Homo sapiens: one gene and its partners. The protein of the gene in region 2 interacts with the protein of the main gene of each other region in a pairwise test. Each region holds a gene or a part of one and is shown on either strand. Other genes may lie near its edges.

Evidence for each region.
Region 1: the proteins of FATE1 (region 2) and BTN2A2 interact in binary tests that used the Homo sapiens proteins (3 or more experiments, as listed by UniProt).
Region 3: the proteins of FATE1 (region 2) and AGTRAP interact in binary tests that used the Homo sapiens proteins (3 or more experiments, as listed by UniProt).

Annotation. Positions count from the first base shown.
Region 1 is NC_000006.12:26,386,108-26,389,759, forward strand, and holds part of BTN2A2 (butyrophilin subfamily 2 member A2 isoform a precursor), read left to right. Parts: intron 1-1,905; coding exon 1,906-2,187; intron 2,188-3,652. UniProt on the Homo sapiens protein: Inhibits the proliferation of CD4 and CD8 T-cells activated by anti-CD3 antibodies, T-cell metabolism and IL2 and IFNG secretion.
Region 2 is NC_000023.11:151,721,226-151,723,707, forward strand, and holds the end of FATE1 (fetal and adult testis-expressed transcript protein), read left to right. Parts: intron 1-169; coding exon 170-276; intron 277-677; coding exon 678-756; intron 757-1,402; coding exon 1,403-1,534; 3' UTR 1,535-1,969; downstream 1,970-2,482. UniProt on the Homo sapiens protein: Involved in the regulation of endoplasmic reticulum (ER)-mitochondria coupling. Negatively regulates the ER-mitochondria distance and Ca(2+) transfer from ER to mitochondria possibly implicating it in the regulation of apoptosis.
Region 3 is NC_000001.11:11,742,511-11,746,162, forward strand, and holds part of AGTRAP (type-1 angiotensin II receptor-associated protein), read left to right. Parts: intron 1-2,022; coding exon of another isoform or gene 2,023-2,058; intron 2,059-3,292; coding exon 3,293-3,327; intron 3,328-3,616; coding exon of another isoform or gene 3,617-3,652. UniProt on the Homo sapiens protein: Appears to be a negative regulator of type-1 angiotensin II receptor-mediated signaling by regulating receptor internalization as well as mechanism of receptor desensitization such as phosphorylation.

The DNA of each region.
Region 1 (3,652 bases), on a different chromosome or scaffold from region 2:
CAGAGAGAGTGACTTTTATATAAATAGATGATTTTTATTAAAGCACAACTAAATACAGAAACAAAGTTATCTATAATTCCTGCTAACTCCACAGAGAAAGACTAAGAATTTAGCTGGGAAGAAATTGGCAAGGCTTCAGCATAGAAATGCACTTAAACTGGGATTTCTAATAGTTTGTTAAAAGTGACACTAAGTGATTACCTCAGTGTTGCAGTTAGTGTATTTTGCTTTAAAAGGTATATTTCAGGACTGAAAAAAGCCTTTAAGTTGCAGAATAATTCGTGGTGACATTTCAGTCCATCAGACCAGTGGAGGCAAGGACTAGGAAATTGGGTTCTTCCCAGGGGGCCCCAAATCATAACAGGTAGGAGACCCTATCTTTGCTACTCACAAAGGCAACCTTACATCTGATTAAAACAGAATATCGTGGATGGAGGGCTTCTTGACCCATTGTCATGACTGTGTTCACAGCAGCACTGCAATGTTGCCCAGTAATGAATGGTTGTATGTGGCAGGGACCCACTACTCTTTCTCTGTAAAACCAACCCTGTCCTGGCCTTCCCTAGTCTGAATTGGGTTGCTGTAGGACTTTTTGTTTGCTTGCTTATTGTACTCTGTTTGTTGGATTGGTTGGTGGCTGATTTTTCCCTTAAATCTATTGTGTCATGCTTACCCGTATTGAACCCATGGAATGTTTTGTAGGACTTTGTTTTCCAATTTGCTGAGGTATTTTAATTTCTTTTCTAATTCAGGATTTCTGTGTGAGCCTTCAAATGCACAACTAGCTTTTTTCTCCTGACAAAAATTAAACAGAGCAGAAAGCACTAGGCTTAAGTGATTGCTTTAATTTTCTTTCTTTAACATAATTTGTTGGGAGACTTTACAAAGGAATTATTCAGGAGAAGTTTGGATGATCACGCATGGCTGAAGGGTCTCCCAGGACCATGCTTTTGCAGCTCTCTCACTCTGGGTATTCTCTTTCATTGAAGGTTCTAGTAAAGATAGAATATATTTAGGATGAGCCTGAATTATTAGGATTTTTGGTGATGATCTCTGACATTGAGGAGGCAATATGGTTATCTTAAGGATCCCAGGGGCATCCAGATATTTCTAATACATTGATGTTCTTAAAGGACTGTAAGAAAATTCTCTATTGGATGGAACCTCTGGGAGGTAAACAACTGTGAATTAGAATAAGAATTGGCTTTGCCAGCTAGTTCTGTCTATTCTCCTAAAAACCATCACCTCCTATGGAGGTAGATAGCCATGGTGATGTGAGGCCCTGAACTAGACAGAAGTGTCAGTGACTTTGGTTCAAAAAGTTTCTTAAGATTTAGCCAAGGCTGAGCATAGTGGCCCATGCCTGTAATCCCAGCACTTTGGGAGGTCAAGACAGGTGAATTGCCTTAGCTCAGGAGTTTGAGACCAGCCTGGGCAACATGGCAAAACCCCATCTCTACAAAAAAAAAAAAAAAAGAAAGAAAGGAAAAAAAGCTTCTGCCAACCTGATAGGTTTCTGTCATTAGTGTATTATTTTAGAGCTTCAGGAAATTGAGGTCTGCAGAGAAGTCATCCCAGGAGCAGAAAGTGAAATTCTCAACCTGCCTGTTGAGAATTTGGACACACCCTCCTGGAAGTGAGAAAATTAGTCTTTGCCAGAATAAATTGCACAGCAAGCATTTATAGCAGACAGATAGATGCTTGGTGCTGTGATGGGGCCTTCAGGTGGAGCATAAAGAAAAGTGTGCAATGTGATCCTTTCTCTTTGAGATCTCACAATTTATTTTGCATATTGGTTTCCTGATGTTCTCCAAAACCAAGGGTCTTTCTAGCAACCATCCATCAAGGTGCAGTAGGGGCTAAGATACCACTGCCTTTTGGCTGAGCCCTGGTCTCCCTTTCCAGGCCTTGGGTCTAAGCCCCTCATTGAAATCAAGGCCCAAGAGGATGGGAGCATCTGGCTGGAGTGCATATCTGGAGGGTGGTACCCAGAGCCCCTCACAGTGTGGAGGGACCCCTACGGTGAGGTTGTGCCCGCCCTGAAGGAGGTTTCCATCGCTGATGCTGACGGCCTCTTCATGGTCACCACAGCTGTGATCATCAGAGACAAGTATGTGAGGAATGTGTCCTGCTCTGTCAACAACACCCTGCTCGGCCAGGAGAAGGAAACTGTCATTTTTATTCCAGGTTAGTTCTCTGCCCTCTGAGACCTATCAAGTGTATGCAGGATCCTCAGCACCCAGATGGAGCCCAGAGCGGGAATGGGGGCAGCAGTGTGGGTGGAATGGTCCTGGGCCCTGAGGAGCTGGAGGCTGCAGCTGAGTTGAGACGTCTCCCCTCCTCACAAAGGGAGATTCAAAGAGTCCCAAAACACAAGAGTAGGAGCCTCTTCTCTGAGGGTAAACCTGGTCTTTTTTTTCTTGATTAGGTCTTTATGCTGCAACAGTTGTAAAATATTAAGGACAACCATCAAACCTGGAGAGTAGTGTGGGTGGGTGACTGTCTATGCTTGGCATTCCTGTATGTTGCAGCCATCCCTTCCTGTCTATGGGACTTCCCAAAGGACAGAGCTGGGGAAATTCCCTATCAAGAGACATTCATAAATGTATTCAACAAATGTTCAACAAGCATTTCTTATGTTTAAGACTGTACAGGAAACCAAGGGTCAATAATTGAACAAAATATATCAAAATTTCTCTCCTCAAGGAGTTCATATTCTAGAGAGAGACAGCGGCCGGGCACGGTGGCTCACACCTGCAATCCCAGCACTTTGGGAGGCCAAGGTGGTTGGATCATGAGTTCGGGAGTTCAGGACCAGCCTGGCCAAGATGGTGAAACACCATCTCTACCAAAACTACAAAAATTAGCCGAGTGCGGTAGCAGGCGCCTGTAATCCCCGCTGCTTGGGAGGCTGAGGCAGGAGAATTGCTTGAACCCAGGCGGCAGAGCTTGCGTCAAGATCGTGCCACTGCACTCCAGCCTGGGCAACAGAGTGAGACTCTGTCTTAAAAAAGAAAAAGAAAAAAAGGGAGCGCGAGAGAGAGACAGCAATATATGAAATAATTGAAACAAGTGATTAAATAAATAATAATCTATATATTCTATCACATGGTGACGAGCATGTAGGAAAAATTAAGCAAAGAGAAAATAGAGAGTTCCAGGGGTGTGAGGCATCAGAATTATTAACAAGGTGGTCAGGGAAGACTTCACTGTAAAGATGGAAATTGAGCAATCAAGACAAGGAACCATCAGATGCTTAAGGACTGAGCAGCCAAGGTACAGGAAGAGCATATGCAAAAGGCCTGAGGAAGGAGCTTGTCTGGCAGTTTCCAGGACTCCCAGGAGGTGATGCTGGTGTGGCTGAAATGGAGTGAGTTCAGGAAGTAGGGGGAGATGAATTCACAGAGTGATGCAACTACGTTATATATGGCAGCACAGGCCACAAACAGGCTTTGGCTTTTAGAGTGAGTGAGTGGGAAGCATTGGAAGGTTTTGAGCAAATAATTAACATGATCTCACTTGGGCTGCTCTGCTGAGAGTAGATTACAGAATAGAGCAGAACAAGAAGGAGGGCACTCTAGTATTCCAGGCGTGAGTGATGGTGGTTTGAGGCAGGGTGATGGCTGTGCTGACTCAGCATGGCTGGTTAGTT
Region 2 (2,482 bases):
CTGTGTGGGGTTCCCAAGCTTTCCTAGCGGCCTGAAGCTGCCAGCCCTTGATTCCAGAGACCAGGCACCATGTGATTCCCCATGGGGTGCACCATTGGCTCTGGGCAAACTGGAGAAGCCACTCATGTGGGGTTGGGCAGGCTACTTTACTGACCATTCCTTTCTTCAGGGGTCCCAGCTGCCAAAGCCCAGAATGCTGAGAGAATCAGGCCATGGGGATGCCCATCTCCAGGAGTACGCTGGCAATTTCCAAGGCATACGTTTCCATTATGATCGGTAAGAGCTGAGGGTCTGTGGGCCCTGGCTGCTCAGACAGGGCCCGGAGTGGGGCAGAGGGGCTGGTGAGCAGCCTGGCCAGGATGGAGTCATGAGGGCCTGGAATGCCTCCCTGTCAGAGACCATGAGTACCCTGGCTCCCTGCCCATTTGGGGCATCCCAGTGCTCTGCGGCCTAGCCGAGTTGGGCTGGACTGGGCTGGGCCAGGCTGGCTCAGGCTAGCTCAGGCTGACTCCCAGCCCTCAAGGCCCTAGGCCCTCTTTACCATGGAAGAGGACTGGAGGCTGATAGAGTCACTGTCCAAGAAGATCACGACCTTACCTGCTTGACCTCACTGCCTTCTTGTGCTCCCTGCCAGGGACCACCAGCAGCTTTGACCATCTGTCTTTTTTCTCTCCCAGCAACCCAGGGACAGATGCAGTGGCGCAGACTAGCCTGGAAGAGTTCAATGTACTGGAGATGGAAGTCATGAGAAGACAGGTGAGGAGGGACCCAATCGGTGGGTGCAAGCAGAATCACAGTGCCTTGGAATAGGCAGGGCTCGACAGCTGGGGTCCTGTAGTCCCTTACAGTCATCTTTCCCTTTAGCGCTGGAGGTGGGGCAGATTCCCTTCCTCTTCCTCCTCATCCCCATGGCTCTGACACCCCGCATAGATGTCCAGCCTCAAACTCACTGCTGTCCCTGAGATGCTGGTAGGGAATAGGGGCAGATAAAAGGTGGAGGAAGAGGGAACATACAAGGATAAGGGTTCTATGTCCAGAGAGAGAGTGATACCTAAGGGTCTGAGAGAGGGGTCGCCTTTGTTCAAACCAAACCCAGACCTTCTTAGGAGGAGATCCTTTCTTCCTTGGCTCCCCGGCGCAGCTGGAATGGGCTGGTCTCTTCCAGAGAAGGGAAGTGAACATAAGGGAGAAGGCAAAAGTGGGGCCTGCAGACGTAGCAGCCAGGTCTTTGGTCCCGCGGACCTGGCCCAGCCTCCTGCTTCTCACTAGGGGCGCTCCCCGCTCCACCGCCAAAGGGCAATCAAGCCCCTTCTTGCTCTAACTTTATGCTTTTCCCATGGCTGTGCTGTGGGCTTCTGGAGAAGAGCCTCGCTCAGCAGCCCTGCCTTTGACTCCTCTGCAGCTGTATGCAGTCAACCGGCGTCTGCGCGCCCTGGAGGAACAGGGCGCCACCTGGCGCCACAGGGAGACCCTGATCATCGCCGTGCTGGTGTCGGCCAGCATTGCCAACCTGTGGCTGTGGATGAACCAGTGATCGCCCCAGCGCGGCCTCCGTATTGGAGCCCTCCCTGCTTCCCCTTCTTTCTTTCCTCTTTCCCCAGGCCGCCACTGCCCTTGCCCCTTTCATCTCCCAGCAGCCCTCAGGAGCGTCAGGATCATTTTCAACTCTGGTTAGGCCTCCTACCTGGGGAGGCCAGGTCACTGCACTGGGAGGTCCTGGCTGCTGCGAAGCTGGAGGAGGACTGCGTGGGCTGAGATGCCACCCTTTGAAGGGTGAACAGCATGGCGGCATCTGGGCCCCACAGTAACACCTAGTGGCAACCTTGCCTTCCTGACCTCAGCGGCCCTTCTGTTCCATCCTCTGTGGGCAGGGGTGTGGCTTTGTTTTCCTCCCTCGTTTGCTTCCACCTCGTGCACAGCGCTCTGCACAGACAACACGCTCAATAAAAGTTCAGCCATAGCAGCAAAACCCTGTGGCTGAGGTTCCTGTGTCCAGCACTCACTGGGGGCAACAGTGGAGGTGGGGTGCGCTGGGAAACAACAGCTCCTCTTCACAGAGACCTTGTGGCTGGGACTGAGCCTCTGCCATTGCCCCAGGGGCCCTGGTTCCCTCCTCCCTTTCACCTCCCCCACCTCCCTGTCCCCAGCCCCAGCTTTGCAAAGTTCTTCCTGTTGGGCTCATGCAAACCAGTGCTTGTGGGGGTGTGGTTCTGGGAGCATGTCTGCGCTGTGTTGCAGGGAAGCAATCAGAGGAAATCTCCTGAAAGGGACCAGAAACCTCATTTGCGCAAGAGGAAATTGAATTCCAGAGAGAGGAAACATGTCCCTGGGTCATCCAGTGAGACAGGGCCTGGATGTGAGTTCTCTGGCGTGAGTTCTCCTGAGTCCTACGCTAGGGCTTGGCCTGCCTCCTGCAGACAGACTCACTGGAGATGAGGTCCTGCCTCAGCTCTGGAGGCTGAACGGGAGCTACACATACCCC
Region 3 (3,652 bases), on a different chromosome or scaffold from region 2:
CTCTTTCTTTCTTTTCTTTCTTTCCTTACTTTCTCTTTCTGGCAGGATCTTGCTCTGTCCCCCAGGCTGTAGTGCAGTGGCATGATCTTGGCTCACTGTACACTTGACCTCACTGGCTCAAGTGATTCTCCCACCTCAGCCTCCCAGGTAGCTGGGGCTATAGATGTACTCCACCATACCTGGCTAATTTTTTGATTTTTTGTAGAGATAGGATCTTACTTTGTTAGCCAGGTTGTTCTCGAACTCCTGGGCTCAAGCAGTCTTCTCCCTCCACCTCCTAAAGTGTTGGGATTACAGGCGTGAGCCACCAGACCTGGCCCACAGTTCTTTTTTGCAGGTGGTGAGGGCTCCTTCTGCCCTTCCACCCAGGCCAGAAACCCCGGCCTTCTTCGCAAACCTTGCCCATGTCTGCGCCAGGACACTGCCTCTGCCCCAGGCATGTGGCATCTCTCCCTTCCAGCCTGACCCCTCAATCCCTTGAGTAAACTTCTAGGGCCCTCATTGACCACCAGGCCCGTTGAAGCTCCCAATTTGGGGCTCCTGGCCTCCCAAAGTCTCTGTGCCACCCCACCCCGACCTCAGTTATCTCCATGCCCACCGCCACCCATGCAGGGCCTGGGGCTTGGCCCCACTTTGCCTGGCCGAGCCCCGCTCATACATTGTGCTCAGCCTGGGTCCCTTCCCTTTGGAAGCTCTTTCTGCAGCTGCCTGCCCTCCCAAGGCATCTGTCTTTTCTTTTCTTTTTTTTTTTTTGAGATGGAGTCTCACTCTGTCACCCAAGCTGGAGTGCTGTGGCCCATTTTGGGCTCACTGCAACCTCTGCCTCCCAGGTTCAAGTAATTTTCGTGCCTCAACTTCCGGAGTAGCTGGGATTACAGGTGCCCACCACCATGCCCAGCTAATTTTTGTCTTTTTAGTAGAGACAGGGTTTCGCCATGTTAGCCAGGCTGGTCTCGAACTCCTGACCTCAAGTGATCCACCTGCCTTGGCCTCCCACAGTGCTGGGATTACAGGGGTGAGCCACCGCGCCCAGCCCATCTGCCCTTTTTCTTTCTTTCCTTTTTTTTTTTTTTGAGGCGGAGGTTTGTTCTTGTTGTCCAGGCTGGAGTACAATGGCGCGATCTCGGCCCACTGCAACCTCTGCCTCCTGGGTTCAAGCGATTCTCCTGCCTCAGCCTTCTGAGTGGCTGGGATTACAGGCATGTGCCACCATGCCCGGCTAATTTTGTATTTTTAGTAGAAACGGGGTTTCTCCATGCTGGTCAGGCTGATCTCGAACTCCCGACCTCAGGTGATCTGCCCACCTCAGCCTCCCAAAGTTCTGGGATTACAGGCGTGAGCCACTGTGCCCAGCCTCCATCTGCCCTTTTTCTATGTGCTTTCCAGTCAGGGCCTTGTTGATGTCCCGGAGTAGAGACCAGTTCCAGGAGAGGAGGCTGTCATTTTAAGGACACAGAGGACATTAAAAAGGGTAAAATATTGTAGCTGGGTGCAGTGGCTCCTGCCTGTAATCCCAGCACTTTGGGAGACCAAGGTGGGTAGATTGCTTGAGCCCAGGAATTTGAGACTAGCCTGGTTAACATAGGGAGACCTTGTCTCTACAAAAAAACAAAAATTAGCTGGGCGTGGTGGTACACACCTGTAGTCCCAGCTACTGGGGAGGCTGAAGCAGGAGGATCACTTAAGCCCAGGAGTTTGAGGCTGCAGTGAGCTGTGATGGCGCCACTGAACTCCAGCCTGACCCACAGAGCAAGACCCTGTCTCCAAATTTAAAAAGAAAAAAGTAGAATATTGCAGAAATCCAGAAAAATAGCCAGGGGGATTTTGTTGTTGTTTTTCCTTACCATAAGGCATACCAAGCTATCTCCCTGTAGAAAAGTCTCAGTGGTGTCCCTCGTTGCACTTGGCATGAAGCCCACGCTCCTTCCCGAGGCCCTCAGGCCCCCCTACCTGTCCCCAGCTACCCTCCCTTTGCCCGCTCTCTCCAGCCACAACAGCTGCTTTCCCCTCTGCCCCCCACAGTGCGCCAGCTCCAGTGTCCCAAGAAATCACCCTCACGTGAGTCCCCACCGCTCCGCTTCCCATCGAGGCCTCTTCTGATTTCAGAGCAGATTCCCTGCATTCCACAAAGGAGCCTCCCACCCTTGTGTTACAGGAAAGGGGTCCCAATCCAGACCCCAAGAGAGGGTTCTTGGATCTCGCACAAGGAAGAATTCAGGGCGAGTCCATAGAGTAAAGTGAAAGCAAGTTTATTAAGAAAGTAAAGGAATAAAAGAATGGCTACTCCATAGGCAGAGCATCCCTGAGGGCTGCTGGTTGCCCTTTTTAAAAAAATTAATTAATTAATTAATTTACTTATTTTTGAGATGGAGTTTCTCTCGTCGCCCAGGCTGGAGTGCAATGGCACAATCTCGGCTCCCTGCAACCTCCACCTCCCAGGTTCAAGCAATTCTCCTGTCTCAGCCTCCTGAGTAGCTGGGATTACAGGCACACACCACCATGCCCGGCTAATTTTTGTATTTTTAGTAGAGACAGGGTTTCACCATGTTGGCCAGGCTGGTCCTGAACTCCTGACCTCAGGTGATCCACCCACCTCGGCCTCCCAAAATGCTGGGATTACAGGTGTGATCCACCGCGCCCAGGCTGGTTGCCCATTTTTATAGTTATTTCTTGATAGTATGCTAACCAAGGGGTGGATTATTCATGCCTCCCCTTTTTAGACAATATAGGGTAACTTTCTGACGTTGCCATGGCATTTGTAAACTGTCATAGTGCTGGTGGGAGTGTAGCAGTGAGGACAACCAGAGGTTACTCTCGTGGCCATCTTGATTTGGGTGGGTTTTAGCCGGCTTCTTTACTGTAACCCGTTTTGTCAGCAAGGTCTTTATGACCTGTACCTTGTGCTGACCTCCTGTCTCATCCTGTGACTTAGAATGCCTTAACCATCTGGGAATGCAGCCCACTAGGTTTCAGCCTTATTTTACCCAGCTCCTATTCAAGATGGAATTGCTCTGGTTCATACGCCTCTGACGCTTGGAAGGGGTGTGGGTGTCAGCTGCCCCATGGGAGGGGTGAAGGCATGAAGCGGCCCCTCCCTGGCCTGGCCTGCTTTCTTCCTCCTCCTTCACTCCTGGGCCACCTGCAGTTGCTGGTGTGCCTTTTCAACAGACATTACTGAGGCCCTCAGAGGTGCCAGGCGCAGGGGCGTCCTGTGTTTTCTGCACCCGACGCTTTCCTGCCCCTGTGGTGGTCATGTTCACAGACCTCTTCTCTCCCCCTTGTTGTGCCACAGGTGATTCTCCTAGGTCACTGGCTGCTGACAACCTGGTAAGTGACTCTGTGGGTATCTTGTGTGTCTCCTGCGGTCTCAGGGTCTGTGTCAGCCGGGTCAGGTCCTGGTTCTGCCGTGTTTTAACCAGGTCACTTTGGGCCAGACAGCTCTGCCTCTCCGGGTCTTGATTTCCGTCTGTACAATAGGCATAAGGATTGCACACCCTGCAGGAGCTGGGAGGGAGACGTGGAAGTGCTCATCAGAGCTCCCCAGGGCCTGCCCCACAGTGAGGCCTCAGCACTGCAGCTTGATTTTCACCTTTACCATCTCTTTTAATCTGTTGAGCTTCTGGAGACATTTCTCTGCCAAACCAAGACTGGA